Linked DNA regions of Homo sapiens. The protein of the gene in region 2 interacts with the protein of the main gene of each other region in a pairwise test. Each region holds a gene or a part of one and is shown on either strand. Other genes may lie near its edges.

The links. The genes of interacting proteins can lie anywhere in the genome.
Region 1: the proteins of TBC1D1 (region 2) and RIN1 interact in binary tests that used the Homo sapiens proteins (3 or more experiments, as listed by UniProt).

The regions. Positions count from the first base shown.
Region 1 is NC_000011.10:66,333,435-66,340,500, reverse strand, and holds the start of RIN1 (ras and Rab interactor 1), read left to right. Parts: upstream 1-4,066; 5' UTR 4,067-4,098; coding exon 4,099-4,184; exon of another isoform or gene 4,185-4,210; intron 4,211-4,342; coding exon 4,343-4,523; intron 4,524-4,624; coding exon 4,625-4,739; intron 4,740-4,818; coding exon 4,819-4,891; intron 4,892-5,002; coding exon 5,003-5,094; intron 5,095-5,249; coding exon 5,250-5,987; intron 5,988-6,276; coding exon 6,277-6,582; intron 6,583-6,842; coding exon 6,843-6,974; intron 6,975-7,066. Other genes in the region: BRMS1 (breast cancer metastasis-suppressor 1), read left to right, coding at 288-380, 1,716-1,780, 2,612-2,833. UniProt on the Homo sapiens protein: Ras effector protein, which may serve as an inhibitory modulator of neuronal plasticity in aversive memory formation. Can affect Ras signaling at different levels. First, by competing with RAF1 protein for binding to activated Ras.
Region 2 is NC_000004.12:38,012,781-38,020,359, forward strand, and holds part of TBC1D1 (TBC1 domain family member 1), read left to right. Parts: intron 1-1,728; coding exon 1,729-2,193; intron 2,194-4,613; coding exon of another isoform or gene 4,614-4,673; intron 4,674-5,573; coding exon 5,574-5,663; intron 5,664-7,579. UniProt on the Homo sapiens protein: May act as a GTPase-activating protein for Rab family protein(s). May play a role in the cell cycle and differentiation of various tissues.

The DNA of each region.
Region 1 (7,066 bases), on a different chromosome or scaffold from region 2:
TGTTCATAGTACCTGTGTTCACGTGGAGTCCTGGGGTGGCAGGAATTGTCGTCATCCCACTCTCCACTAAACAGATGAGGCTCACAGAAGTGCAGTGACCTCTTCCCAGGGTTGTGCAGCTGTGCAGGCAGGACCTGAACAGCCCTAAGGGGCTTCTACCCCAAGCCCAGGGTGGTGATGGGACAGGGGAGATGAGGCCAGGCCGGCCCATGGTGGAGGCAGAGGCTACAGAAAAGGGAGTATCCTGTGGGCCAGCACCCCAATTCTAACTCTGGGTCTCGGGGCAGAATGGTGGGATGACAAACTGCACGCCAGAGGCAGCTCCAGGTCTTGGGACTCCCTGCCGCCCAGCAAGAGGAAGAAGGCACCTCTGGTTTCTGGTATCCTTTCACCCAAGGTGGCCTAAAAGTGGGCAGGATGTAAGGGTCAACTCCAGACCCAGGGGAGGGGGTTGGAGGGGACATGGAGGACAGTCACACTAGATGCACTCGTGGTTGCTTGGTGTCATGTGAATATGTCCAGGCAAATCCAGCTGTCAGCAGTTTCTTACGGGGTCCTGGGTCTCTCTGGGCTATGTGAACCCTAGGAAAACAGAAACGGGCTGGGCTCCGTGGCTCACATCTACAGTCCCAGCACTTTGGGAGGCCAAGGCGGGTAGATTGCTCGGGCCCAGGAGTTCTTTTCGAGACCAGCTTGGGCAACATGGTGAAACCCATCTCTAGAAAAAATAACAAAAATTAGCCAGGCGTGGTGGTGTGCACCTATAGTCCCAGCTACTCTGAAGGCTGAGGTAAGAGGATTGCTTGAGCCTGAGAGATCAAGGCTGCAGTGAGCCGTGATGGTGCCACTGCACTTGAGCCTGAGTGAGGTTTGGCCTTTGAGGCCTTTCCATCTCCCGGGGTTGTCCGAGCGGGTCCCCAGCTTTCCCTGGGGAGCCTTTGCTCATATCCCACCCTCCTCTTGGAAGTCCTGCCTGTCCCGACTGTCCAGGGCTCATCTCAAACGTTACCTCCTCTGTGAGGCCTCTTCTGGTCTTACCCTGGTGCCTATGGCTTCACTTTCCTGTGTGCTTCTGTGCCCTACCATGGGGTACCCACATCCCAGAGGGCACTGGCTGCCTCCACCCCTTCCTAGGCAGGGCTAGCTTAAGCTTAGTCCAGGGCCTGCTGTGCTTTCATCTGTCCTGGCAGAGCTGAGTCCTCCTGCACCCCTGAGGGTATTCCTGCAGCAGCCAGTCTTAGTCATTATGGCAACCTGGTGCTGGAGAGCAGGCCCAGGCAGGGAGGGAGGAATCTGGAAGGCCATGACTTGAGTGAATGGAAGGTGAAGGCATGGAGACATCAAGTAGGGAGCACTGGGGGAGGGAGAGTTGTCTCTGAAGGGATAAGCCCTGCGTCTGTCTTTGGATCAGGGAAGGGGCCAGGTTAGGGCCAGTGCTGCAGAGTGAGATGGGATGGGCCTCAGCCAGCTGACCTAAGACGAGGTGAGGGTGAGCAAGGGACAGGGAACAACATTTGGTGTCCTCCATAGACTTGGTTCCAGGACGACCCCTGGAACCAGGGGGTTAAGAGGTAGGAGGTGGAACCTGACCTCGGACCCAGGTCCTCAGCTCCCACTCCATGCTGTCCGCTGTACCCCCACTCCTGAATGTCAGGTGGGTGGCCCTGCCCTCGTCACCTGCCACCTCCACTAGGCTTCCTTGACCCCCACCACAGGCCCATACATCGTGTACATGCTTCAAGAGATCGACATCCTGGAGGACTGGACAGCCATCAAAAAGGTGGGGGCCGCTGCTGCCCACGTGACCTGCCCCACCTCAGGGCCCCCCACCCTGGCAGCAGCTCTGCCATCTGCAGGCCTGGGAGTTCTCTGCTCACCAAGGCTTCCCCATCTTCAGCCCAGAGTCCCTGGATCGCAGTTGGCTCACAAGTCCTCTTGCTCAAGGCGGCCCTGGGAAAAGGGATTTCTAGTCTGTGTCAGCCCCTTCCCGTTCTGGGGCAGGTTTTGATGGGGTGGGAGGGTGGCGGGGAGGCGGGAGAGCCGCTGAGCTGGCCAGCAGTCAGGAGCATGGGAGCTCTGCCTGGGTGGGGCCTATGCTCCCGGTCCTGGGGGCACAGCACTGAGGCAACAGCCCACAAGCCACAGAGGTGGGGGGTGGGGCAGGGATTGCCAAGCTGGAGGTGGGCTCTCAGGGGAGCTTTTCTTCTCACCCACCCAGGCTAGGGCAGCTGTGTCCCCTCAGAAGAGAAAATCGGATGGTAAGAACCATGGCTGTTGCATGGCCTTCCCTGCCCCCTTGCCATCACCTTTCCTCAGCTCAGCTTCCAGGAAGGAGCCCAGAGAAAGGCTGTGACTGTGTCAGAATCAGTGGCTCAAGAAAGTTAGGATGGTCTAGATTTGAGGGGCTTGTGGGAGTTTGAGGAGCAGGAACCAGGATGGGGCTGGGGAAGCTCTGGGTTGATGGAGCTCCCACTCAGGAGGGGTCAGGGAGGGCTGTGGAGCTGCCCAGGAGGCCTGTTCTGGGCCAGCCCAAAGCCACTCAGTAAGTGGCTGCCTCCTTCCTTTCAGCTTCCTAACTGGTGACAGTTTTCTTCTTCCCACATATGCACAGGACCTTGACCCTGCTGTTCACAGCCAGGGGGACCCTCAGAGCAGCTGGCACTGCACCCAGGATTCTCGTCTTCCTCCTGCAGACAGGCGGACCCACAGGCCCCTCAGGGTCTGCCCAGCCAGGCTCCTGTGGTGCTGCTGGGCCCTCCCACTCCATCTGGCACTGGCCTGGACTCCTCCTCTGCCCTCCTCGAGGCCTGCACAGCTGTGGCCGTGGAGCTGACCTGACCAGGCAAGGCTGCTGTCTCCATCCCTGAGCCGCCTGCCACCTCCCACTCCTGAAGATCCATCTCTTGGGGCTCCCCTGACAGAGAAGACAGCCGAAGTCAAAGCCACATCCTCTTGCTGATGTTGGATGCAGGCTGTCCGGCCTCAGGGCCAGGGAGCCAGTTTCCACTGTGCGGGAACTCTGAGTCAGACGTGATTATCTGGGGGTCTGTCCACCCTGGCTGGATCTGGAGGCAAGATGCCAGGCCCCCCAGGTGTTCTCAGGGCAGTTCTTGGTGTCTGCTTCTCAGATTCCAAGGACTGGAATTAAAACCTTTCCTGGGACTCTGGCGTGCCCTGTGTGTGTGTGTGATTTACCTTGCAAGAGAATCAGGGCTCCCGTGGGGAGCACCTGAACCAGGCCGACTTCTAGGGTGCCTGCAGATTGCCACTCCTCACACTACCCAGCAGAGGCTAGAGCACTGTGCGTGGGGCCAGGCTGGGGAGGGGGAGGTGGGCGCTGGGCTGCCTGGCGCTGGGCAGAGTCAACATATGGCACCGGGAGAGTGCCTCGGCGGGGAGGGTGGATGCGTGTGCTTGGAGCCTGGGTCATGTCTGCACCTGTCCCAGTTGCCTGGCAGATTGGCAAGGCAGGCTGGCAGAGCCTGCGTGCGTGGGAGGCAGCCGGCAGCACCGCCATGTGCTGACGACCTCACAGCCAGACTCCCCCTGGTTAGCACTGAGTGTCAGAACCACCCCCAGAACCTCAGTTAAGCAAATAGGTTGGTTTCCATGGAGACATGGCATATTTTCTCCATGGCAACCTAAAATCCTAAAACCCAGGTTCAGGAATGAGTCATCTATGGACAGTAGAGGGTGCTCTCCCACAAGGCTGACCTGAGGCCAGGGGCAGATGAGCAACTGACCACAGAGCCAAAGGTGCCCCCAGAGCATGGCTGGGGCCTGTGGGGACTGAGGCCGCTTAACCACTTCCCGCCCACGTGTGCAATGTGAGTAGCTGGTGAGGCTGCAGGAGGCCGTGTGTGGAGGTGGCATCCCCCAGCTGGGGCCCTCAGAGCAGGGCTAGCATGGAGGGGACCCCTGACCCCCAAAGCAGGGTCCAGAACAGAGGAGGCGGGCACTGGCCAGGCAGGGTGGACACACAAGAGTTAACTGGCGGGTGTGACAGGCGGACCGCCCTCAGGAAGTGTTACTCACTGGGGATGTGCGTGCCTTGCCTTGGGACTGGATTCTCTTCCTGAAGCGAAGGAGCTCCCAGCCATGGAAAGCCCTGGAGAGTCAGGCGCGGGCTCTCCTGGAGCCCCCAGCCCGTCCAGCTTCACTACTGGGCACCTGGCGAGAGAAAAGTTAGTGAAGTTGGCAGGGCAGCCAGGTGGGGCAGGGAGGGGCTGCGAGAGGAGGGCCTATCCGGGGATAGAGAAAGTGGGAAACCCGGGAGTGGGGAAGAGGAGAGCAAGGGTCCCAGCCCCTGGCTCCCTGCTCAGATCTGGGTGCCTGCCCCCAGGCCAGCCCAGGACCCACTGTATGACGTGCCCAATGCCAGCGGCGGGCAGGCAGGCGGGCCGCAGCGGCCGGGGCGCGTTGTGAGCCTGCGGGAGCGCCTGCTGCTCACCCGGCCCGTGTGGCTGCAGCTGCAAGCCAACGCAGCGGCCGCACTGCACATGCTGAGGACCGAGCCCCCGGGGGTGAGTCTTGCCCCACACTCCAGGGACTGGCCAGCCAGGGGTGGGAGGGAGAGGGATGGGACGCCAAGGTCCTGAGCTGCCTGAGCCCTATCCACTTGCAGACGTTCCTCGTGCGGAAATCTAACACCCGCCAGTGCCAGGCCCTGTGCATGCGGTTGCCTGAAGCCAGTGGCCCCTCCTTCGTCTCCAGCCACTACATCCTGGAGAGCCCTGGCGGTGAGGGGCTGGCCTGGCGGGAAGGGGCTGGAAGCAGGGAGGTTCCCCAGAGAAGCACCTCACTTCCCTCCTCTCTCAGGCGTCTCCTTGGAGGGCTCGGAGCTCATGTTCCCAGACCTAGTCCAGCTCATCTGTGCCTACTGCCACACCCGGTGAGTCTGCCCGCAGGGTGCCTGGTGTCCACGGGCCCTGCTCCTTGGGACAGCCCATCCTTCCCGCCCTCTTCGGCCCTCACTCCCTTCTGCTCCCCTCTCTGGCCTCAGGGACATCCTTCTCCTCCCGCTGCAGCTCCCCAGAGCCATCCACCACGCAGCCACTCACAAAGAGCTGGAGGCCATCTCCCATCTGGGCATTGGTAAGGGCTTCCTGCCACCCATTGCACAGATGAACAAGCTGAGGCCGAGGGGAAGGCAAGGCTCGCAGCACACCGCCCGAAGCCCCTGCCTTGCCTTGGTTGGGAAACTTCCCCTAACCAGTCCCGGAGGCCCCAGTCGGTTTCTTGTTCCCTAGAGTTCTGGAGCTCCTCCCTCAACATCAAGGCTCAGCGGGGCCCGGCTGGAGGCCCAGTGTTGCCCCAGCTGAAGGCCCGGTCCCCTCAAGAGCTGGACCAGGGCACCGGAGCCGCCTTGTGCTTCTTCAACCCCCTGTTCCCGGGGGACCTAGGGCCCACCAAGCGGGAGAAATTCAAGAGAAGCTTCAAAGTGCGCGTGTCCACAGAGACCTCCAGCCCCCTGTCTCCACCTGCCGTGCCACCTCCCCCCGTCCCCGTGCTGCCAGGGGCAGTCCCCAGCCAGACAGAGCGGCTGCCCCCTTGCCAGCTGCTACGGAGGGAGAGCTCAGTGGGGTACCGCGTGCCAGCAGGCAGTGGCCCTAGCCTTCCGCCTATGCCCTCCCTCCAAGAGGTGGACTGCGGCTCCCCCAGCAGCTCCGAGGAGGAGGGGGTGCCAGGGTCCCGGGGGAGCCCAGCGACCTCACCCCACCTGGGCCGCCGACGACCTCTGCTTCGGTCCATGAGCGCCGCCTTCTGCTCCCTACTGGCACCGGAGCGGCAGGTGGGCCGGGCTGCGGCAGCACTGATGCAGGACCGACACACAGCCGCGGGCCAGCTGGTGCAGGACCTACTGACCCAGGTGCGGGCTGGGCCCGAGCCCCAGGAGCTGCAGGGCATCCGTCAGGCGCTGAGCCGGGCCCGGGCCATGCTGAGTGCGGAGCTGGGCCCTGAGAAGCTGCTGTCGCCTAAGAGGCTGGGTGAGGCTCCGTCTCTCCATAGCTCCAGCACTGCCCCATCCGACCCTCTGCTCCCCTCCACAGCGCCAGCCTGTCTGATTCTGTTCTGCTGCTTTACAAATCCATCTTGTCTTACCACTGTTCGAGAGAGTTCCATCCCCTCTCTCCCCCAACTCTTCCGTCTCACCCAGGCTACCTCCTCCTGCTTTCCTTGCCTCTCCTCCCCGATTCTACCCCTGCTCCCTTCTCCCCTTGCCTCTGCCCCCCATACCCCCAGTCTTCCCCTGACCCCTCCCTGTCCCTCCGGCAGAACATGTCCTGGAGAAGTCATTGCATTGCTCTGTGCTCAAGCCTCTCCGGCCCATCCTGGCAGCCCGCCTGCGGCGCCGGCTTGCCGCAGACGGCTCCCTGGGCCGCCTAGCTGAGGGCCTCCGCCTGGCCCGGGCCCAGGGCCCCGGAGCCTTCGGGTCCCACCTGAGCCTGCCCTCCCCAGTAGAGTTGGAGCAAGTGCGCCAGAAGCTGCTGCAGCTGCTCCGCACCTACTCACCCAGCGCCCAGGTCAAGCGGCTCCTGCAGGCCTGCAAGCTGCTCTACATGGCCCTGAGGACCCAGGAAGGTATGTCCCTGCCACCACCTCACCCTGCCCTGCCCCTTTGAGTCAGAGGCGGGCCCCCCAGCGGCAGGTCCCCAGGACCCTAGAACAGCCCTGCAGGAGAGAATGAGCCCACCCTCCCCTCTTGCAGATGGCGAAACTGAGGCCTAGAGAGGAGCGCATCCTTTCTGAAGCCCCTCAATGGTTGCTAGGGCATGGGGAGGGGTCACTGCCTAAAGCAAGGACTGTACCTGAAGCTTCTTCCTCTCACCATGTCCCCACAGGGGAGGGCGCGGGTGCCGACGAGTTCCTGCCTCTGCTGAGCCTCGTCTTGGCCCACTGTGACCTTCCTGAGCTGCTGCTGGAGGCCGAGTACATGTCGGAGCTGCTGGAGCCCAGCCTGCTTACTGGAGAGGGTGAGGGACCCCCACCCACCTCCCTGTCTGGGTGGGCCCTGAATAAGCAGGGAAGGGGAGAGGGGATGGGGTGCCCCACACCCAGCCTGAGC
Region 2 (7,579 bases):
ACCTGTTGAAATTTTGGCTATTTTGTTTTTTTTGAGACAGTCTTGTGCTGTCACCCAGGCTGGAGTGCAGTGGCACAATCTCGGCTCACTGCAACCTCCGCCTCCCAGGTTCAAGCAATTCTCCTGCCTCGGCCTCCCAAGTAGCTGGGATTACAGGCACCTGCCACCACGCCCAGCTAATTTTTTGTATTTTTAGTAGAGACGGGGTTTCACTATGTTGGCCAGGCTGGTCTCAACCTCCTGACCTCCTGATCTGCCCTCCTTGGCCTCCCAAAGTGCTGGGATTACAGGCATGAGCCACTGCGCCTGGCTGAAATTTTGGCTTTTAAAATCATTTAGGTCTCATCAGGTATCAATTATTTAAAATGTAAAACTTTCCTAAAGATCTTTTGACTCTTTGTGTGATAAAATACCTTGAAAGAATAGTCATAATCTTTATGACAGAGAGATCTTTAAGGTGTATTTGATATGAAGTCACAAAGAGAAAAATCTTTCGAGTCATTGGTTTTGGGAATTATGTCATGAACACTGAATATAAGGATACTTTTAAAATTTAAAACCACCTCCTTTACTGTATGTGTTGATCTTTGACCTGAATTGGAAGGGGGATTTTTAAAATTTCTCTATAATGTTGTTAAAAAGACATAGGGCCTGTGGGTATTGGGCCTTAAATTGAATTTTCCTTATATAGAAAAATGGAAAAAATTGGTTTAGGTGTTAGGTCATAACAAAAAGTAGGCCCTTTTGAAGATTAAATTTATGCCTGCCTTGGCCTTGTTTAAATCCATGCCTGGCCACAAATATTAGTGTTGTGGCTGTCCATCATCTGAGCAATTGCACAGCTGTTTCATTCACTGCCGTGCGGATTCATCTTTATGTCTATGCTGCTTTGAAGAACCTTCTCAGAGGTTAATGATGAGAGGATGTAGCAGTAGGGACAACACCGTGGCAGATGAGGTCTTTTATTACATTCTTTTAATCATGATTTTCAGCATTAGAAACCAAAAGCTTTATAGTCTCCATGTGAAGAATCCCTGGTGAGCCTGTTTGCTGTGATAATATTAGTCATGGGTTACTCAGTCCTTGATTAAAACCTCCTAGCTTTGTTGACTTGCTAGTCACTATTCACCTGCTAGGAAATATAGGACTGAGTTGTCATGGAAGGAAATAATGGTGCTGGGATTTGAATAAATAATTTATGAGATAATTTCAGAGCCTTTGTCTTCTTCATCCCACCATTTATTAAAGAAGACTTTCCAAAGTATACTGCCATGAGATCTAGAATAATTGAGTCATGTTTTGTGAACCACGTTGGAGACAGACTTCTCTGGGAGGCGACAGCTTCTCCAGAGGAGGCCTTTAGCTTTGGAGTGGGACCAGCCTGGGCTTGAATCCAAGGCCTGCTAGGTTGGGCTGTGTGTGTTCCCGGGCTGGTGGTTTAACCTTGCAGGGTGCTGTGGGCATGTAAATCCTCCAGCGCAGCCCTTGGCAGGTAAGAGGTGCTTCATAAGTGTCGTCCCCCTTCTCTTTTCTGTGGAAGCTGTGTGTTCACCTCCCATGGGAAGACATTCCTAGTCCCCTCCCGTGGGCTCCTCCTCCAGTGGGCTCCTCCTCCAGTGCTCCGCAGTGGAGTAGCCAGCGGGGCGTCCCGAAAGAGCATGGTGCATTCATTCCGTGAGTGCCAGCCACACTGCATGTTCCAAATAACACGCCTCTCTCTCTCCTCAGGTGCCTGAGATCATCAGCTCCATCCGTCAGGCGGGGAAGATCGCCCGGCAGGAGGAGCTGCACTGCCCGTCCGAGTTCGACGACACGTTTTCCAAGAAGTTCGAGGTGCTCTTCTGCGGCCGCGTGACGGTGGCGCACAAGAAGGCTCCGCCGGCCCTGATCGACGAGTGCATCGAGAAGTTCAATCACGTCAGCGGCAGCCGGGGGTCCGAGAGCCCCCGCCCCAACCCGCCCCATGCCGCGCCCACAGGGAGCCAGGAGCCTGTGCGCAGGCCCATGCGCAAGTCCTTCTCCCAGCCCGGCCTGCGCTCGCTGGCCTTTAGGAAGGAGCTGCAGGATGGGGGCCTCCGAAGCAGCGGCTTCTTCAGCTCCTTCGAGGAGAGCGACATTGAGAACCACCTCATTAGCGGACACAATATTGTGCAGCCCACAGATATCGAGGAAAATCGAACTATGCTCTTCACGGTAAAATATCACCCAGCTCGTGCACAGCCCCAGTCTGCCATACGCTTTCAAGAGAAAATCTGCTTTATGGAGCGAAGATTCTTAGTCAATTGCTTTTGATTTATGTGTGAATCCATATATTTTCATGCTGAACAATTCTATTCTTAGGATAAGCTCCTTCCTTTAGCCATAAGCCTTTACAGTCATCAGGGAGAAACATGCCCATGTGTAATTTTTATCTCACCCGGTAATTATAAAGACACCTTTTCAGTGTGGAAAGAACAGTGAAAACGTGTAAATGAGACCAGCAGAGAGATTTAAAAAATATATATGAATTTCAGATGATATATTTCAACAGAATCTTTTAGTTGGAAAACACCCTCTCTACTATTAATATTTTTATTTATGAAACATTTACCCTTTGCTAATCAGGAAGAGTGGCTTTGTGAGTGACATTATATTTGAAATTTATACCCAAACTGAAATATTAATTTAGCCAATGGCTTGCTTGCTTTTTTTTTTTTTAGAAAAAAAGTGTTAAATTGACAGCCAAATGCTAGAAAAGGACTGAACATGGGGGGCTGTCCCAGGTGGGTGGGGTTCCTGGTTCCATGCTGATCTGGGCTCTTCTGAATGGGTGTGCCCTCCCTGGGAGTCCCCTGGGTCTGAACGGATGAGATGTGGAGCTGTCCCGGCAGCGAGCCGGTCTCTGACAATGGAAGAGCTAGTTTCTTCCTTGGCCTTCTCTTTGGCTTAATGCTGACTGACGTTCTGTAGAGAACAAAATTATCTTAAATATAAAGTCTCCTTCTTGTGTCTAATTCAGGGCACAGGTGAGATGGCCAGGGGGTAAAAAACCAGCTACCTAGGTTAGTGCAGTGTGGATGTGTGCAGGTTTAAAACCAAGGGGGTGCACCCAAGGGTAAATAGGGCTGATGTTTTCATCTTTTGACCATTGATCTAGTGTACCGAAAAGAGTAGTCAGATTTGTGCTTTAATTTGTGATCTGCATCTTTTAAAAAAACTTCCTTGGTGACATTGAGAAAGCTGCTCCCTGCATTTATTTATAAGTACTGACTGTTTGACTGCTGTGCTAACGTCCCTTGCCACATGCTGGAAATGCAGCCGTGAACAAGACAAGTATGTTCTCTGCCCACATGGAATTTAGATTCCAGTAAGGGAGACAGGCAACTGAGTGCACAAATAATTATCTAATTATAATTGTGGTAAATGCCGTGGAGGAGAAGTACAGCATGCCTGAGAGCATTTCTCAGGGTAATCAGGAAAGGCTTCTTTGAGAAAGTGATTTTCACCTAACACAAGGTTTCATTGTGGCCACCTGGGAAGGTCTTCTGGGCTCACAGAGCAGCAGATGAGAAGGCCCTAAAGGCAGGGATGGTGCCTGGTGCCTGGAGAATCCCAGAGGCCTGACTGCCTCCTTTGCTCAGCATTCTTCCCTCGAGTTGTCACGGTCTTACCTCCTCTTGCTTCCTTTAGGTCTCTGCTGAAATGTTGACATGGAGGAATAATCGTATCAGTAAGACCAATAGCAGCCTCACTTCCTGCTTTTTTGCTTTATTTTTCTCCATGGCATTTTTACCATTTGACACAATTACAAATAAACAAGTAAAAGATTTTATGTCCCACATGCCCCCAAGAAGATAGGCTTCAAGAGGGCATGGATTTTCATTTCTCTGTTCACTGCTGTCGTTGGTAGTGCCTAGAGCACAGCTGTTGGGTGAGAAATAATTCCAGATGGCCGCACTGAAAACAAGGAAGGATGGTGCGTAGAGATGGGGCTGGGACTGGAGGCAGCCCCATGAAAGTTGTTTTCATCAGGCACAACTTTATGGGTCTTGGTCAGGGTTTTGTTTTTTATCCTGAAAGGAGTGGGCAGTCACTGCATGCTATAAAACACAGTGTGAAATATCTTTGGCTACAGAGCCAGGATACTTGGGGGAGGGCAAGAGTAGGATGGGGAGGGGAGTGAAGCTGTTGTAGTAGTCCAGGTGAGAGATAGTGGGGTTGTGGTAAGTGCAGTGGGAGTGGAAGGGACAGACATGCAGAAAGTCAAATTAATGGGATGTACAATCCTTTGGATGCCATGGGGAAGGAGAGGGATCTCAGGAGCCCCACCCAACTTTGGATTCTGACTTGCTCTTTACAACCCAGCCATAGCTAAGTAATAATGCCTTGGAGCCTCTCACCTTATGAGATTTTCAAAGGTTATTTTTAAAAATAAGTAAGGACTATCTTCATTATGTAGGTAAAGACAGTGACTTCTAAAGAGACTAAACATACTCCAAATAGATACTTATTCGTTGTTTACAAATAAGGAGGATATTGTGTTGGCTCCTACTCTAGAGAGAGACACAGTCTAGTTTAGAAAGATGTTGCATGTTAAAAATGAATTAGTTTTTCATCATCCTTGGTCTCCACAGAAGGACAAGAGTAAAAGGCTACCTGCCACTCTCTGCTGGCTGAAATACAGTTCAGAAACAGTAAGTGTGCAAAAACAATTCAGAATGCAAAGTCCTTGCCCCAAACAGAATGCACGTTTCTTGGGCCCCCTCATTGAGAGTATAATTCCCCTTGACTTACACCCCAGTTTCCAACAAGCTTGTGTATCTGATTTGTATTTTACATCAAAGCGTAAAGAGTTTAGAGGAGGAGATGGGTCTGGGAGTTAAGAATGGCAGCGTCAGGATGTGACCACTGACTTCTTGGTCCTGAGGAGAAACTAAAGCTGTAGAAACCAACACACACTGAAACCCAAGAAGCTTAGCGCTCCAGAGACGAGGAGTCTAAAAGGCAGCCTTTCACAGCCTGCAGGGGCGTGTGCACACAGAGTAGGTTGGGTATTGCAACACAGCAGTCTCCTATAATGCATGTCTATTAGCATGTCCCAAGGCAGTAAGAGGATTGTAATTGATGCTCATACTCTAACTTGAAAAGGTCCGGTCACTAGTGTATGTGAATGCCTCACATGTAATATGTACTAAACAAATGGTAGATTCTTTTAACAATAATTTAAAAAGACTTGTCAGTAAAAATCATTCAAAAGTATCTTGGAAGCTTTGAAAGAGTAGATTCTGTTTTCTGGAAGGTTCACTTATGCGGAGACCTCAGTTTTTAGGGGGATGTGTGGATCTTGAGGCCTATTGCTAACTTTTGGATATCTGGTTCTTTCATCTCAAGGAAGATGGCTGTCTTATCTAGGTGAAGGCACTAATAGATGTGTCTTATGACCTGAAATCCAGAGGATAAGAGGGGACCTTTGAAATGATTTCTACGATGATAGAGTCAGAATTTTATAGGAGCTTGTCCCTTTTATTCTTTATTTTCATAGGTCATGAAATGAGAAAGTTTGAAAAGCTAGATTTTTTTGTTTGTCTTTTAAGATTGGCCAGTCTGAAGTTTACCTCATCAGTCCTGACACCAAAAAAATAGCATTGGAGAAAAATTTTAAGGAGATATCCTTTTGCTCTCAGGTAAATGGAGATGGGTTTTTTTATTCAATTGCAATGGAATTTTTAAATGAATTTCTATAATATCTATCATGTAACAAATGCTAAAGGTTACAAGGTGTATGTTTTCTAAGTACTGTACTTGATTTGTGTTTCGCTTTTCTTCTTTGCTTTGGTATGTTAAGGTAAATTATGAATATAATTTTGAAATTAAGAAATTTGCTCTTAGCAACAGTAATGGACAAAATAGATCTACTTTTAATTTTCTCAGTTATTGGTAGTAATAATCCACAGTCATGACTTCCAGATGCACATGTGTGTGTCTTTGTGCATATTACACATATATATTTACACATTTCACACAAATATATCTTTTTATTAGATATATTTCTACTTTACAAAAATTTGTAACTTTTTTGGGTACCAATTGTCAGTATTCTCCCTTCAAATATAGATAGTGCTTATCTTTGACATATATATTTACACATTTCACACAAATATATCTTTTTATTAGATCTATTTCTACTTTACAAAAATTTATAACTTTTTTAGGTACCAATTGTCAGTATTCTCCCTTCAAATATAGATAGTGCTTATCTCAGAGTACAGTGTCTACTTGAAAACTTTTTTCTTGATAATCTTCCAGGTGTTTCATAGAGGGATTTTGGAAGAATCTATCAATTAAGATTAGCTGTGCCAGTTTTACTCAGGATCTTCCTAACAAATATGAGATCACTTAAGGTTATATTTGCTTTTTTTTTTAAACTCTGGATTTTTCATTTTCATAATTGATAAAATATGAAAATGTCAGTGTTGATTTATAATGTGATCTACTTAAATATTCAAAAGGGACTTTTCTGCAAAATGTGAAAATAAAGAATGTTCTTTACAGATTGAATAGGGAACCATTTACAAAGAAAAAGCTTTGCTAAATCATATTTCCTTAAGTGGTAGCCTTATGCTTAACTTGCTACTGGAGAAGATTAATTGAGATGGCAAAGCATGTTAATGATTGCTCATTTATTGGAAAATATTTGGCCTGAAAGTGAGATTACCCATAGAGTTTTTAATCCTGATTTGCTGCTATTTCTGTTGAAATATGAATGTTAAATGTTTACATTTTTGTGTGATAGCTTTATAATTTCCTAAAGAGTGTAGTTTACAAGTTTATATGATTACCTGAACATTAAGCTATCAGCACTCACATCTCTGCATGATGATGCTTTCAGAATACATTGATGTATTAATATTTATGGCAGACGTTTTATCTGTATTAAGGTGCCTCTGATAGCTGATGATTTTAAAACACATTTACATATTAATATTTATTAAAAATAGCTCTTATGATACCATGGTAGAGCCTTGGCCTAATATGTTTAAAAGCTCCTCTACTCTGTGTGCATGTAATTTTTGACTCTTTCTTTATTCCAGTTCACTTCAGTATTTACCTACTTATTTTAGGAATACAAATATATTTTAAATATTTTTTTAACCTTTGGGTGTGTATGTGCTTAGTTGTGTTTCTTCATGAATCTCTGGTCTGCCTTTGATTTTTTGAGTGGTTTTTATTCTTTAATACCTATGTCTCAAACAAAACAACAAACAAATACTAAAATGAGCACTAAAACTTGAATTTTCAGATCTTATTTTTCTTATTGTTGTGGGAGTAATCAAAGGAACATTCTAGTAAACCAACTTTATTTGAGATGTTTTTAGACTTTTTGAAATTTTAAAATATCAGAGAAAATAGTAATTTCCTAGTGTTTTTTAAAATTGTGCTGTGTAGGCCAGGCGCAGTGGTTCACGCCTGTAATCCCAGCACTTTGGGAGGCTGAGGTGAGTGGATTACCTGAGGTCAGGAGTTCGAGACCAACATGGTGAAACACCATATCTACTAAAAATACAAAAATTAGCCGGGTGTGGTGGTGCATGCCTGTAAT